2 linked regions of the Homo sapiens genome follow. The protein of the gene in region 1 purifies or fractionates together with the protein of each later gene. This does not show direct contact. Each region holds a gene or a part of one and is shown on either strand. Other genes may lie near its edges.

What was found. Proteins that work in one complex are often made in the same cells at the same time.
Region 2: the proteins of SEPTIN7 (region 1) and SURF4 fractionate together in Homo sapiens (co-fractionation; one large-scale study listed by BioGRID). This does not show direct contact.

Annotation. Positions count from the first base shown.
Region 1 is NC_000007.14:35,806,398-35,811,766, forward strand, and holds part of SEPTIN7 (septin-7), read left to right. Parts: intron 1-5,369.
Region 2 is NC_000009.12:133,363,505-133,366,060, reverse strand, and holds part of SURF4 (surfeit locus protein 4), read left to right. Parts: intron 1-32; coding exon 33-76; intron 77-1,034; coding exon 1,035-1,221; intron 1,222-2,301; coding exon 2,302-2,556. UniProt on the Homo sapiens protein: Endoplasmic reticulum cargo receptor that mediates the export of lipoproteins by recruiting cargos into COPII vesicles to facilitate their secretion.

The DNA.
Region 1 (5,369 bases):
TGAAGGGTCAACCATGGCTTGGAGTTAAAAATGCAGATTAACTGGTTCCCACTACAAGACCCATTGATTAGCAATCTCTGGGAGAGGGACCCAGGAGTCTACATTTCCAAATGCTTTCCGACTTATCAAGTAACTTCATTATTGTATGCTTTCATAGAAAAAAATACGTGGATTTTAAGTATTTAGTTCAATGAATTGCTGATGTGCATACACACATCTTGTAGCCTTTATTCTAATCAAGATAGAGAATACTTCCACCATCCCAGAGTTTCTTGTGCCCTGTTGGAGTTCTCCTTCTACTGCCCCAGGTAACCACTGATAAGATTTCTAATAGCCATGAATTAGTTTTTTTGTTTTTGTTAGTTGACTCATTTAAAGTGTTTTTTCTGGGTAACTTTCTAAAGTCTCCCCATCCCTATAACTTCTTTATTATATAAGATTTCAAATAAAATGAACGTCATGGTGTTTTTCAAAGAATACAGATTCTCATAGTGTTTCACACTTTGATAAATGATAGGCCTGGGATGGGGCCCTGAAAATCTTTGGCTCTGATTGACTGTTTTCAGGAAAATCAAAACTATTTTCCACCAGTTTTGCTGTGCTTTATAAAATATATTTGAAATATTCCTGCAGTGGTAATTTGAAACTTTTGTAAACTTTGTTCATTGATTTAACAAGTATTTGACTCCAGGAAGTATCAGACACTTTGACACCATAGCAATCAAGAAAGCTGTGGTCATGGATGTTATGATGTTTCTGTTTTCATTTCTGAAATTGCTTTTTTAAAACTTTTTTTTTTTTTTTGAAACGGAGTTTCGCTCTTGTTGCCCAGGCTGGAGTGCAATGGCACAGTCTCAGCCACCGCAGCCTCCGCCTCCCCGGTTCAAGTGATTCTCCTGCCTCAGCCTCCCGAGTAGCTGGGATTACAGGCATGTGCCACCATGCCCGGCTGAATTTTTTTTTTTTTTTTTTTTTTTTTTTTTAGATGGAGTCTCTCTGTGTCGCCCAGGCTGGAGTGCAGTGGCGCGATCTCGGCTCGCTGTAAGAAGGTCTGCCTCCCGGGTTCACACCATTCTCCTGCCTCAGCCTCCTGAATAGCTGGGACTACAGGCGCCCGCCACCGCGCCCGGCTAATTTTTGTATTTTTAGTAGAGACGGGGTTTCACTGTGTTAGCCAGGATGGTCTCAATCTGCTGACCTCATGATCCGCCCGTCTTGGCCTCCCAAAGTGCTGGGATTACAGGCGTGAGCCACTGTGCCCTGCCAATTTTTGTATTTTTAGTAGAGACAGGGTTTCTCCACATTGGTCAGGCTGGTCTCGAACTCTCGACCTCAGGTGATCCACCTGCCTTGGCCTCCCAAAGTGATGGGATTACAGGTGTGAGCCACCGCACCTGGTTGCTTTTTAAAAATTTTATTGGGAGGTTTTTTGTTGTTGTTTTGTTTTTTTGAGACGGAGTCTTGCTCTGTCACCCAGGCTAGTGGCATGATCGTGGCTCACTGCAACCTCTGCCTCCTGGGTTCAAGTGATTCTCCTTCCTCAGCCTCCTAAGTAGCTGGGATTACAGGCACATGCCACCACGCCTAGCTAATTTTTGTATTTTTAGTAGAGACGGGGTTTCACCATGTTGGTCAGGCTGGTCTCTCCTGACCTCGTGATCTGCCTGCCTTGGCTTCCTAAAGTGCTGGGATTACAGGTGCAAGCCACCGCACCCAGCCTGGTTTTTTTTGTTGTTGTTTTTTTTAATAGGTAATATAATCACTTGGTTCAAAATTCAAAAGGTTAAACAGAGAGATACAGTGAAATCTCCTTCTTACTTCTACCCCCAAGTCACCCAGTTTCCTAGTCCTCGGCATCCTGTGTTAACAGTTTCTTGTATGTTCTTCCAAAGGTGTTTTTTGCATATGGAAGTTAAAAACATTTATCCTTCCTGCCCCCACCCTTGGTAGCATTAAGACACATTATTTCCCACATGTTTTTTTCCAATGAGTGTAATTTGGGTTATTCCGTATCAGTACATAAAGAGCATTCTTATTCTTTTATACAGCTGCATAACCGTTACATGATATCTCAGTCTGTTTGTGCTGCTCCAACAAAATACCTGAGACTGGGTAATTTATAAGGAACAGAAATCTATTTCTTACCATTCTGGAAGCTAGGAAGTCTAAGATCACAGTGCCAGCAGGTTTGGCGTCTCTGCTTCCAAGATGGCACCTTAAATGCTACTTCCTTTGGAGGGAACAAATGCTGTGCCCTAACATAGTAGAAGGAGCAAAAGGGTCAAGCACCTCCCTTGCACCTCTTTTATAAGGTCATTAATCCTATTAATACCATTACTAGTGATTAAGTATCAACATACAAATTTTGGGAGAACACATTAAGACCATAGCATATGGATAGATCATGATATGGGATATATTTTGATTTGTTTAACATGTCTGCCTCTGATAGACATTAATTTCCAGTGTTTTGCTATTACCAACTTTGACATGGTGAGTCACTTGGGATATTGATCTCTTCACATTTGTTAGTGTATCTAACAAATACACTAACTGTTAGTTTTTGAACTCTTTGAAGCAGGAGACTACCACTTAAAAGTTGTAGTATTGACATTGTCATTATATCAATAATGTATTGATGTTATAGTATCATAACATTGATGTTAAGTATTGGTAATATTGCTGTTAAGTCATTAGTTTAGAACTTCAACAATCAAGTTCATTCACTTAACAAATACACGTTTTGTACTTGCTGTGTGCTGGCCACTGGGGAAACTGAATTAAATGCTGTGGCAGTTGAAATAGAGGCATGGTGATTAAGAGTTTTCGGATCTAGAGTCAGACTTGGATTCATATCTCAGTTCTAAAGCTTAACTGAACCTTTGGCAAATAACAGAACTTCTATTTTTCCTTCTCTGTAATGTGGGAATCATAAGGTTATTGGAGAAGTAAATGAGATAGTACATGACAAATCCTTAGCATGATGCCTGGCATATAATAAACACTGAGATGTTAGCTTAAAAAAAGTTATCAGACTATATTGCAGTTGACTTTATGTTCTGCCTCCACTGTGCTTAAAGTCTAGGCCTGTGTTTTGTTCACCTTTGTGTCCCCAACCCATAACTGGCTTGCATTTAGTAAAAAATTTGTGATACGATATAAAGGTATGCAGAGCATACAGTGAAAGTTCAAAGCAGGATACCTTTTCCATGCTGGAGAAGGTGAATCTTTGAAAGTCGGTAGGAGTGATTAGGTAAAGGAGGTGAAGGAGTAAAGATAATTATTCTAGACTGAGAAATTATGTTAGTATCAGGTTATGAGGTTAGAAGAGGTAAGTAGGCAACTGGTATTGCTGTGCTGAGAATTTAAAAATCTTTATTGAAGGCTTTAAAAGAAAAGTGGTAATCGTAAGAATCGTGATGATAATTCTCTCTGTTGAGAGTTGACAGGGCACCAGGTTGGAGCCATTAAATTGAAGGAGTTTAATGTAGCAGTTTAGGACTAAAAATTGGTCAGAAGCAGGGCAATGGGAAAGGACATGAGGGGGATGGTTGTAAGGTGTTAGGGAAGATGTGGGTGGTGAGTAATGAGTCCAGAATATTTGAGCTTTCTGACTTGAGTGAATGGGTAGATGAATAGATGCTATTTCTTGAAATAGGTAATTTGAAACATGAAATTGAGAGGCCTGGGGGACATCCAAGTGGACATGTCTTGTAGGGTCTCAATACTAGGAAGACATCTAGGATAGAAAATAAACATTTTCTGATAATTGTAAATGTATTCATTTGTGCTTTGAATTTTTATGTTTAGTAAGTGAGTTTGTGAACAGAGTTGAAGGAAATTACAATAAAGTGATTTGTGTGAAACTTCGTTGTCCTTCAAATATAGACTGAGGTCTCCAGTTTCTGGGGTAGTACTAAAATGTTTCCTTTTTTTTTTTTTTTGAGATGGAGTCTTGCTCTGTCACCCAGGCTATAGTGCAGTGGCGCGATCTCAGCTCATTGCCAGCTCCGCCTCCCACGTTAACGCCATTCTTCTGCCTCAGCCTCCCGAGTAGCTGGGACTACAGGCGCCCGCCACCACACCTGGCTAATTTTTTGTGTTTTTAGTAGAGCCTGGGTTTCACCGTGTTAGCCAGGATGGTCTCAATCTCCTGACCTCATGATCCGCCCGCCTTGGCCTCCCAAAGTGCTGGGATTACAGGCGTGAGCCACCGCGCCCAGCCAGATGTTTACTTATTTAAAATTTCAGCTGGTACGTTTCACAGCAGCAGTTGCTTCAGACTCAGGGTTATGCTAGTGTTTCTTTGCAGGAGTGACATTTTGTATCCTTATATATTGTTATTGTCCATTCAGATTGTAATGAGTTAATGAGTTTTTTTTTTTTTGAGACAGAGGCTCGCTCTGTCGCCCAGGCTGGAGTGCAGTGGTGAGACAGAGGCTCACTGCAACCTCCACCTCCCTGGTTCAAGCAATTCCTCTGCCTCAGCCTCCCGAGTAGCTGGGATTACAGGCACATGCCACCACGCCTGGCTAATTTTTTTGTATTTTTAGTAGAGACGGGGTTTCACCATGTTGGCCAGACTGGTATCGAACTCCTGACCTGAGGCAATCTGCCCACCTTGGCCTCCCAAAGTGCTGGGATTACAGGCATGAGCCACTGTGCCCAGCCGAGTTCTTTCTTTTGAGGAAGATTTTGGTATGTATTGTCCTTCAGTTTTAGAGAATACAGTAAATATTTTGAATGAGATCATTATTTGTGTAAGAGGAGGCAAAATTCTCATAATAATTTTCTTAGTTCTTTCCATTTATATATTTTTTTAAAAAATAAGGAGAGTACCACCTTATTTATTACATGTAACATTTTGGGGTATGAGGCGATCTATACAAGGAAAAATTTTCCAGAAACTAATGTTCTCTCAAATATTAACATTTTAAAGTATTTCTAATAATAAAAATTTAGTATATAAACTTGGTTTCTTTTATGATTAACTTAAACAAATTAGCCACAAGGGGAAAAATAAATTATTTCAATCATTGTAAGTTAATTTGTATTCTTTCTAAATATATAGGTTGTAATTAGGGGTGTATTAGTGGTCCTAAACCCTGGACCAGCATTGGAAACATTTCTAATGTTTAACACAGTTGGAGACTCTATAACTCACTAGGTGGGAAGTGGGGCTTAGAAGCTTGCTTATTAAGAGGCGGGCATGGTGGCAGTGGTTCTCATCGGTAAACCCAGCATTTTGGGAGGTCGAGGCGGGCTGATCACTTGAGGTCAGGAGTTCGAGACCAGTCTGGCCAACATGGTGAAACCCTGTTTCTACTAAAAATACAAAAATTAAGGCTGGGCGCGGTGGCTCATGCCTG
Region 2 (2,556 bases), on another chromosome or scaffold:
GACTCAAGTATCTCTCTCTTCTTTCCCCTCAGACGATTGCCTACAGCATTTTATGGGACTTGAAGTTTTTGATGAGGTATGTGCATTCTGGTTGGTTTTAGTATACGCTCCTTCTACAGGTTGAGCATTGCAAATCCAAAGTCTGAAATGCTCCAAAATGGGAAAAATCTTGGGCACCAACATGACGCTCAAAGGAAGTGCTCATTGGAGCATTTCAGGTTTTGGATTTTCAGATTTGGGATGCTCAGCCAATAAGTATATAATGCAAATATACCAAAATCTGAAACACTTTGGGTCCTAAGCATTTCAGGTTAGGGATACTCAATCTGTATTTCTAAACTCAGTTAACTATTGGTTTGAGTAGACTTCTCTGGGTCTAAACCAAGCTTGTCCAGCCTGTGGTCCACGGGGTGAACATGGCCCAACACAAACTCAAAAACTTTCTTAAAACATTGAGAGTTTTTTTTGTGATTTTTAAGTTTTATTTTTTAGCTCATCACCTATCATTAGCATTAGTGTATTTTATGTGTGGCCAAGACAGTTCTTCCAGGGTAGCCCAGGGAAGCCAAAAGATTGGACCCCCCTGTCTAAATTGTGCCTCTTAGAAACAGGTTCTGAAGAGGATGTTGCAGAGCCCCTAGAATAGTAGAGACTGAAGCCGTCTCTTCTGACCCTTATTTCACGGGTGTGGGGACTCCGGGTCTGAGTGGAGGACAGACCTGACCACGGGGACCCAGCTGGTCAACACTGAAGCTGTGACTAGGACTCGGTTGTGTGTGTGTTCAGGTAGCCTGTCACTGTCGAGTTGTAAAGATACCTCTGTCTCCTGAGCTATGTAAGGTTTTACATGGGTGTAACTCGAGTCTGAGGTCCTGTGCGCATGCCTGCCTGGTCCTGCTTGGCAGATCACTGGGTTTGGAGAAAGGGAAGTAAGGGCCTTCTTATACTGGCAGCAAGGTCTCCCTGCACCTGGTCTCACAGACAGGCCAGATCCTGGTGAGGCTTAGCTTCCAGCCCACATATCTGTTCCTCAGGAACCTGGCCCTGGGAGGAGGCCTGTTGCTGCTCCTAGCAGAATCCCGTTCTGAAGGGAAGAGCATGTTTGCGGGCGTCCCCACCATGCGTGAGAGCTCCCCCAAACAGTACATGCAGCTCGGAGGCAGGGTCTTGCTGGTTCTGATGTTCATGACCCTCCTTCACTTTGACGCCAGCTTCTTTTCTGTAAGTATTCCTACTTGCCTGAACCGGTCTGGTTTCCTGTGAATGCTGTCCCTCCCCCACCCCCTCCCTGCTCACCCCTCCCTGGTTGGGTATTAACCACAGCCTGGGGGAGCTGCTGAAATGGAGCAAACTTTTTTTTTTTTTTTTTTGAGACGGAGTCTCGCTCTGTCCCCCAGGCTGGAGTGCAGTGCGTGATCTCGGCTCACCGCAAGTTCCGCCTCCCGGGTTCACGCCATTCTCCTGCCTCAGCCTCCCGAGCAGCTGGGACTACAGGCGCCTGCCAACACGCCTGGCTAATTTTTTGTATTTTTAGTAGAGACAGGGTTTCACCGTGTTAGCCAGGATGGTCTCGATCTCCTGACCCCTCGTGATCTGCCTGTCTCAGCCTCCCAAATTGCTGGGATTACAGGCGTGAGCCACCGTGCTCGGCGGAGCAAACTTTTTGATCCCATTAAAACAGACCAAAACATCGTCAATCTCTTGTGTGTCAAGCCTTCTTTCCAGCAAATGAAGGCCAGAACCTCTGACCTTGGTGGAGTGTGCTTGGCCCTTGGTTGGCCAAGGCTCTCCACCCGGGCTCCCCTTACTCTTCTTTCTTTCCTCACTGTTCGTATCTTTCTCAAGTAATTCCTGTGTGTCAGGTGTCAGGGGCAGGCCTCCAGGAGCTTCCAGAGCACACCTCCGGAGCTGACTGAGAGCCCTGGCCGGGTAGTGTCCAGGAAGAGCTCCTGGCGCCATGGAGAGAGGAGAGAGGATGTTTCTGGCCTGGATGGCTGGGTGGGCCAAGAAGCACTTGGGAATTTAGTTATGGATTAGAGATTCATCTTGGTAAATCACAGCCTGTTACTAGTTGGGAACTTCAGTCTTCCCCAAACCTTCCACATTTCAAAGCTGGTGCTTTATTGCCTCCTGCCTCCCTTTGGCTTTTATCTCCCTACTTGCACCAGCAGCCGTCTCAGCAGTAGCTACATCAGCCTGATGGATAGAGACTTCATGACGTGCAGCAGCTGGAACTTTTGTTTATAAAGCATCTCTTTTCCTCACATTTATTTTGAATTTCTTACGTTTCAACCTATGCAGATTGTCCAGAACATCGTGGGCACAGCTCTGATGATTTTAGTGGCCATTGGTTTTAAAACCAAGCTGGCTGCTTTGACTCTTGTTGTGTGGCTCTTTGCCATCAACGTATATTTCAACGCCTTCTGGACCATTCCAGTCTACAAGCCCATGCATGACTTCCTGAAATACGACTTCTTCCAGACCATGTCGGTGATTGGGGGCTTGCTCCTGGTGGTGGCCCTGGGCCCTGGGGGTGTCTCCATGGATGAGAAGAAG